Linked DNA regions of Homo sapiens. The protein of the gene in region 2 interacts with the protein of the main gene of each other region in a pairwise test. Each region holds a gene or a part of one and is shown on either strand. Other genes may lie near its edges.

Region 1 (4,083 bases), on a different chromosome or scaffold from region 2:
AAAAACATCTCAGCCTTTAAAAAAAATAATGAAAAAGGAAAAAGAAAACTCCTGTTCTAGTCCAGATAGAGTTGCCATTTTTAGCAATAAAAAATACAGGGTGCCCAGTTATTTTATCTGCCATTTATCTGTGTCTTATCTGGTAACCATAAGTCCAGATCTTCTTGGCCTAATGCAGACAACAAAGCCTGGAAACTGTCAGGGATAAAAAGTCTTCTATAACATCAGGTGGGAAGTTAGGTGGTAAGATAGGAAATAAAAGCCAACATTTTGGGGAAACTCACTTCTGTAGGTAAAAATGTAGTCGCCTATATCACCCTGTACAATCCTAAGCCTCTGTGGACTCTGGCTTTGGTTTGTTACCCTATATCATAACTCAGTCTCTATGGCCAGTGAAAATGGAGTATTCTTGTAACCCTCATAATGTGTTCCTCAGAAAATTCTCTACATTCTTAAATTCCCTCTGGCTTACGCGGGCCTTACTAGAGAATATTATGGAGAGACAACTTTTGAGAAGCACGGGTATGGTGGCTTTCTGGTCACCTGCCCTGGCCTTAGGAGTCCTCACTAAATTTCTCATTCATTCAACTAATGTTACTGAACATCTCTTAAGAGAAGTCATCTAGCCAGGTAGTTAAGAACACTGCGTTTTACTGACTGTGAGATCTTAGACAATGACTCTGTCTCTCCATTTCTGTTTTAGCATTTGTAAAATGGGGCAATTATATTTGTCTCATAGAGTTATTGTGATGGGTAAATGAGTAAATCCATGTAAAGTGCTTAGAACAACTTCTAGCATTAGTGGGGCCTCAATAAATGTAAGCAGACAGCAGCAGCAGCAGCAGCAAAGATCCATCCACATCCTGCCACACTCACACCTACTGCTGCAGTTATAACTATTGAGTTCAGCAAGTGCCAGAAGAATGGAGCCTCCTGCCTTTTGGAAACAGATTGCTGTGGACTGATTATTTGTGCCGTGACCAACTTCAAATGTCTATGTTGAAATCCTAATCTACAAAGTGATGGTATTGGGAGGTGGCCTTTGGGAGGTGATTAAGTCATGAGGGCTGAGCCTTCATGAATGGGATTAGCATCCTTATAAAAAGGTCTAAGGGAGCTCCCTTGCCCCTTCCACCACGTAATCCAGCCATGTGAGATTACAATGTGAAGACAGCTATCTGTGAGGAATGGGTCCTCACCAGACACCTTGATTTTAGACTTCCCAGCCTCTAGAACTGTGAGAAACAAATTTCTATTGTTTATAAGCCACCCAGTCTAGGGTACTTTGTTATATATAGCAGCCTGAACAAACTAACACATAGTTCTCTAAAAATTTATATTTTTTAGTTCCTTTCATTTTCATAGACGTATGGTCTTTTATTTTACAGATGGGCAAAGTAAGGCTTGGACTAATTTAAGTGCCTTTGCAAGAGCTACTGAGGGAAGTTTAGGGTTTTCTCTCATGAAATATAGCTTTAAAGTCAGACAGATTTGGTATTGAGCCCTGGTACAAGACCTGTGACCCTGCAAGGGTAATTTACTTTATTACCTTCCATTTCTCATATGTGAAATAATAGTCAGTGTTTTGCCATGACAAAGATAAAGATGAAATAGTTATAATACTAACAACCCTGGCACACACTTAGCACACATGTACCAGACATAGTTCTAAGCATTTACATATGTGAATGTATTTAATATATATAAGTAGGTGTCCAATAAATTATAGTTGTTATTATTCTGCCATGTTTTGTGACACACAATTTAGGTTTTAAATTTCTCTTTTATCGATATTAGTGGCATTCCTAGAATTATTAAAAACAATACATATTTGGCTAAGGTTCAGAGATCATCGTTTTGTATTGTTTTCGTAGGGTTATTTTGGAGCCGTTGGGGCACTGTTGGAACTGTTCAAAATGACTGATGACAAGTAGAGACGAGCAGTGGAGGAAACAGCCTCCCAAAAGGACAGAGAACTAAAAAATTGCTGCTGGAGAAGGTGAAAGTCGCTTTGGGACGGAAGCCAAGCCATTATGGCAGATGAACCTGCTGGATTTGTAAATAATTTAAAATCCTTCCAGATGATCTTTTACTCTTAGGTTTTGAGCTAATGATTCAAAACGGGGGAATATAAAAGGTTTTTTTTCTGTATACTGTATTTTTTTAAAAAAATGGTGCAGCGTGGCCAAACCTACCAATTGTATGCATTAACTTTGAAAAGTTGTTTGATGTTTAAGAAGGACCTGATATGTAAGCGCTGGTCATTTTTCTTCTGGGGTTTACTGATCAGTGTGGTGATTTTAACTTCATTTAGTAATTACTCTAGGAGATTTTACCTTGACTTATATTTTTCATGACGTTTCATGATTTGCTGTTGGTTTCAAATGAAACTACAAATCTGGCATGTTTTACTGTGAACACTTTTGTTATTTGTTTTGTACCCTTTTTTGTCTTGTTTTTCTGTTTTAGTTGTCTTCTGAAAAAAGAGTCGTTCCCTCTGTTTCTGTCCTCAGATGATGTCCCTCCCCCTACCTGTAACCTTTCTTTGACATAATTGTTCATATCAATGAAGGTGCTGACCAGCTCAATACAAAGTTAAGCACAAGATCTAAAGCTCTTGAAAATGCCCGTGAAGAGAAGACTGAATGTGTTAATGAATTTAATGAGTCTGGCAAAAGTTGCAAATTATATGCAAGTTTGTCCTATCGCTTATAAATGTAGTGTTTCATTGGATTTATTTTATGCTAGGTTATATTAAGTTGAAATAGTCTGTGATTAAATGTCCTCATCCATGCACAGAATATGAATGGCAGCAAATCTTTGTGCAAGAAATTTGAAACTTATTGGGAAAAGCCTCCCAGTAGATTAATTGTTCATATCAGGAGATTTAGGGTAAGTCATGGGTTGAGGTGTCAGATAGTAATATCTATTTGTTTTGTACATGTATATATCTAGGAACTTTGTAACAACACATCTTTAATAATGTTAAAGGTTTTTTCATTTTTAATATTTTAAACTAAAAACTGTACTTCAATCTCAGTTTCTAAAATTAAAAATAATTTATACTGATCTATATATTTTTTCTTTTTGAAAGATTTCATTAAGACTGATGGGTAACTTTCAAATGAGGGTCATGTACAAATATTGGGATGCATGAGATCCCATGATCTTGTGTATTGAGCTTATTGTTGAAAGGGATTTTTGAAGGACAGAACAATTACTCCATGATGAATCTTCCTTTCTCTGCCTTCTGAGCACCGTCTTTAATTTCCATATCTTCAAGTCTTGAAGAAGTTGATGTTAATTGAAGAATTCACTTGTCTGGTTGAAATAAAGCCTGTTTCTGTTGTGATGTTTTTAGTGTATATGTTATTTTCATTTCTTAATTCTCATGTTTATAGTATCTGCTTTGTACCATGAAATGACTGTCTGTTGTGTTTTTGCTACTCTACATTTCAAAATTGGAGGCTTTCCCATGAGTGTGGTATGGTCCAAAACACTGTCTTCAGGTGAAGCTGTAGCCCTATGCATAGATTTTTAAAATAGAGCTTTATTGTTTCTATACAAGTGACTCCTTAATGCCAACTACCTCTGCTATATTTGGTAATTCCAAAGGAGTTTCAAAATTTGGTCATCACAGATACATTTTACCAACTTCTATCTGGCTTTAAAAAAATTCAGACAGCTAAAGTGTTCTTGAAAAGGATAAGTTAAAAATCTACATATTATTTATAATTAGTGCCTTTTGATGGCCTCTTCTATTCCTATTCTCATCTATCAGGTAACAGCAGACCTTGATTCCGCAGATCATGGTTCTACAAAGGAAATCAGGGCAAGTTAGTGTGACTGTATTTTTTTTAATTATCTGAAATCACTTGATCTCTCATTACAAACATTTAAAATATTGGTGTAGCTGAGAAAATACATTATTCCATTATACAAATATCAGTTAAATGTTGACTACATATAGCCAGCCTGTTTTTTACAAAAGAGATCTTGTAGCCTGAGGATTTTCACATTCACTTGAATTACAGAAACTTTTCTTAGAATCAACATCACAAAGAAACTGGGAAGACTAAAGAA
Region 2 (3,828 bases):
CAGAGCAGAAAAGCTGAAAATTCTACAAATCAAGAGTGCCTCTTCTCCTCCAAAGGAATGCAGCTCCTCGCCAGCAACGGAAGAAAGCTGGATGGAGAATGACGAGTTGAGAGAAGAAGGCTTCAGATGATTGGTAATAACAAACTTCTCCGAGCTAAAGGAGGATACTGGCAAACTGAATCCAGCAGCACATCAAAAAGCTTATCCACCACGATCAAGTCAGCTTTCTCCCTGGGATGCAAGGCTGATTCAACATACCTTGAATCAATAAATGTAATCCATCACATACAGAACCAACGACAAAAACTTATGATTATCTCAATAGATGCAGAAAAGGCCTTCAGCAAAATTCAACAGTTCTTCATGCTAAAAACTCAATAAACTAGGTATTGATGGAATGTATCTCAAAATAATAGCTATTTATGACAAACCCACAGCCAATATCATACTGAATGGGCAAAATCTGGAAGAATTCCCTTTGAAAACTGGCACAAGACAGGGATACCTTCTCTCACCACTCCTCTTCAACATAGTGTTGGAAGCTCTGGCCAGGGCAGTCAGGCAAGAGAAGGAAATAAAGGGTATTCAGTTAGGAAAAGAGGAAGTCAAATTGTCCCTGTTTGCACATGTCATGATTGTTTATTTAGAAAACCCCATCATATCATCCCAAAATCTCCTTAAGCAGATAAGCAACTTCAGCAAAGTCTCTGGATACAAAATCAATGTGCAAAAATCACAAGCATTCCTATACACCAACAACACACAGAGAGCCAAATCATGAGTGAACTCCCATTCACAATTGCTTCAAAGAGAATAAAATACCTAGGAATACAACTTACAAGGGATGTGAAGGACCTCTTCAAGGAGAACCACAAACCACCACTCAATGAAATAAAAGAGGACACAAACAAGTGGAAGAACATTCCATGCTCATGGGTAGGAAGAATCAATATCGTGAAAATGGCCATATTGCCCAAGGTAATTTATAGATTCAGTGCCATCCCCTTCAAGCTACCAATGACTTTCTTCACAGAATTGGAAAAAACTACTTTAAAGTTCATATGGAACCAAAAAAGCCCACATTGCCCAGACAATCCTAAGCCAAAACAACAAAGATGGATGCATCATGCTACCTGACTTCAAACTATACTACAAGGCTACAGTAACCAAAACAGCATGGTACTGGTACCAAAACAGATATATAGACAAATGGAACAGAATAGAGCCCTTGGAAATAATACCACATGTCTACAACCATCTGATCTTTGACAAACCTGACAAACACAAGAAATGGGGGAAGGATTCCCTATTTAATAAATGGTGCTGGGAAAACTGGCTAGCCATATGTAGAAAGCTGAAACTGGATCCCTTCCTTACCTTATATAAAAATTAATTCAAGATGGATTAAAGACTTAAATGTTAGACCTAAAACCATAAGAACCCTAGAAGAAAACCTAGGCAGTACCATTCAGGACATAGACATGGGCAAGGACTTCATGTCTAAAACACCAGAAGCAATGGAAACAAAAGCCAAAATTGACAATTGGGATCTAATTAAACTCAAGAGTTTCTGCACAGCAAAAGAAACTACCATCAGAGTGAACAGGCAACCTACAGAATGGGAGAAAATTTTTATAATCTACCCATCTGACAAAGGGCTAATATCCAGAATCTACAATGAACTCAAACAAATTTACAAGAAAAAAATCAACCCTATCAAAAAGTGGGTGAAGGATATGAACAGACACTTCTCAAAAGAAGACATTTATGCATCCAACAGACACATGAAAAAATGCTCATCATCACTGGCCATCAGAGAAATGCAAATCAAAACCACAATGAGATACCATCTCATATCATTTAGAATGGCAATCATTAAAAAGTCAGGAAACAACAGGTGCTGGAGAGGATGTGGAGAAATAGGAATACTTTTACACTGTTGGTGGGACTGTAAACTAGTTCAACCATTGTGGAAGACAGTGTGGCAATTTCTCAAGGATCTAGAACTAGAAATGCCATTTGACCCAGCAATCCCATTGCTGGGTATATACCCAAAGGATTATAAATCATGCTGCTATAAAGACTTCTATGACCAAAGATGTAGGAGGATTTCCCACCCACACCAAGCAACAGACACTAGCTGGGTATCCTCCAACTTAGTTCTGACACTACCTACCCAGAGATAGCATCAGATCCCACAGGCTTAGTCTCACAAGACTGCCCCTTCTTTTCCCCTAGTTGCAAGTCCTGGACTCCAGAACTTCTGGCTGACTGGCTTCAAGTTGGGGTTCCCATGACCTCATCTGTGAATTCCAGTAATTTGCTAAAGCAGCTCACAGAACTCAGGGAAACACATTTACCAGTTTATTAGGAAGGATATCTAATTTTTTTACTTTTTTTTTAATTATTATTTTTTTCATACAGAGTCTCCCTCTTGTTGCCCAGGCTGGAGTGTAATGGCGTAATCTTGGCTCACTGCAACCTCTGCCTCCTGGGTTCAATTGATTCTCCTCCCTCAGCCTCCCACATAGCTGGGATTACAGGCACCTGCCACCATGCCTGGCCTTTTTTTGTTTGTTTGTTTTTTAAGTAGAGACAGGGTTTCATCATGTTGGCCAGGCTGGTCTCAAACTCCTGACCTCAGGTGATCCACCCACCTTGGCGTCCCAAAGTGCTGGGATTACAGGTGTGAGCCACCACGCCCAGCCAGGAAGGATATTTTAAAGGATACAGATGAAGAGATGTGCAGGGTAAGGTATGAGGGAAGATGCATATGGCTTCCATGCTCTCCCTGGGAATCTCACCCTGTAGGAACCTCTGGAAGCTCTCCAAACCCTGTCCTCTTGAGAGGTGAAGCCAGCTGGACTTCCTGGGTCGAGTGGGGACTTGGAGGACTTGTCTGTCTAGCTAGATGATTGTAAACACACCAATCAGCACTCTGTAAAAATGCACTAATCAGCACTCTCTGTCTAGCTAAAGGATTGTAAACACACCAATCAGTGCTCTGTAAAAATGCACCAATCAGTGCTGTGTCTAGCTAAAGGATTGTAAACTCACCAATCAGCACTGTGTAAAAATGCACGAATCAGCGCTCTGTGTCTAGCTAAAGGATTGTAAATGCACCAGTCAGCACTCTGTAAAATGGACCAACCAGCACTCTGTAAAATGGACCAATCAGCAGGATATGGGTGGGGACAAATAAGGGAATAAAAACTGGCCACCCCAGCCTGCAGCGGCAACCTGCTTTGGTCCCTTTCCACGCTGTGGAAGCTTTGTTCTTTTGCTCTTCACAATAAATCTTGCTGCTGCTTACTCTTTGGGTCCACACCACCTTTAAGAGCTGTAACACTTGCCACGGAGGTCCGCGGCTTCATTCCTGAAGTCAGCAAGACCACGAACCCACTGGAAGGAAGAAACTCTGGACACATCTGAAGGAACAAACTCCAGACACACCATCTTTAAGAGCTGTAACACCGCGAAGGTCTGTGGCTTCATTCTTGAAGTCAGCAAGACCAAGAACCCACTGGAAGGAACCAACTCTGGACACACTCTTGGGTGTTCATGGAGGCTTCATTACATAGGCATGATTAATTAAACCATTGGTCATTGATGATTTAACTTGACTTGTAGCCCCTCTCCCCTCCCTGGAGGTTGTAGGGTTGGGGCTGAAACTCCCAACCCTCTAATCCTGCCATCGTCTTTCCAGTGACCAGCACCACGCTGAACCTAGCAGACAAAAGACAGCACGTTGGAGATCCCAAGGAATTTAGGAGTTGTATGCCAGGGAACAGGAACATATTTCCATCCTATAACATATCTTGGCCATAT

Evidence for each region.
Region 1: the proteins of ACADM (region 2) and PANK1 interact in a two-hybrid assay, tested with the Homo sapiens proteins (one large-scale study listed by BioGRID).

Annotation. Positions count from the first base shown.
Region 1 is NC_000010.11:89,582,257-89,586,339, reverse strand, and holds the end of PANK1 (pantothenate kinase 1), read left to right. Parts: intron 1-1,874; coding exon 1,875-1,934; 3' UTR 1,935-3,352; downstream 3,353-4,083.
Region 2 is NC_000001.11:75,755,663-75,759,490, forward strand, and holds part of ACADM (medium-chain specific acyl-CoA dehydrogenase, mitochondrial isoform a precursor), read left to right. Parts: intron 1-3,828. UniProt on the Homo sapiens protein: Medium-chain specific acyl-CoA dehydrogenase is one of the acyl-CoA dehydrogenases that catalyze the first step of mitochondrial fatty acid beta-oxidation, an aerobic process breaking down fatty acids into acetyl-CoA and allowing the production of energy from fats.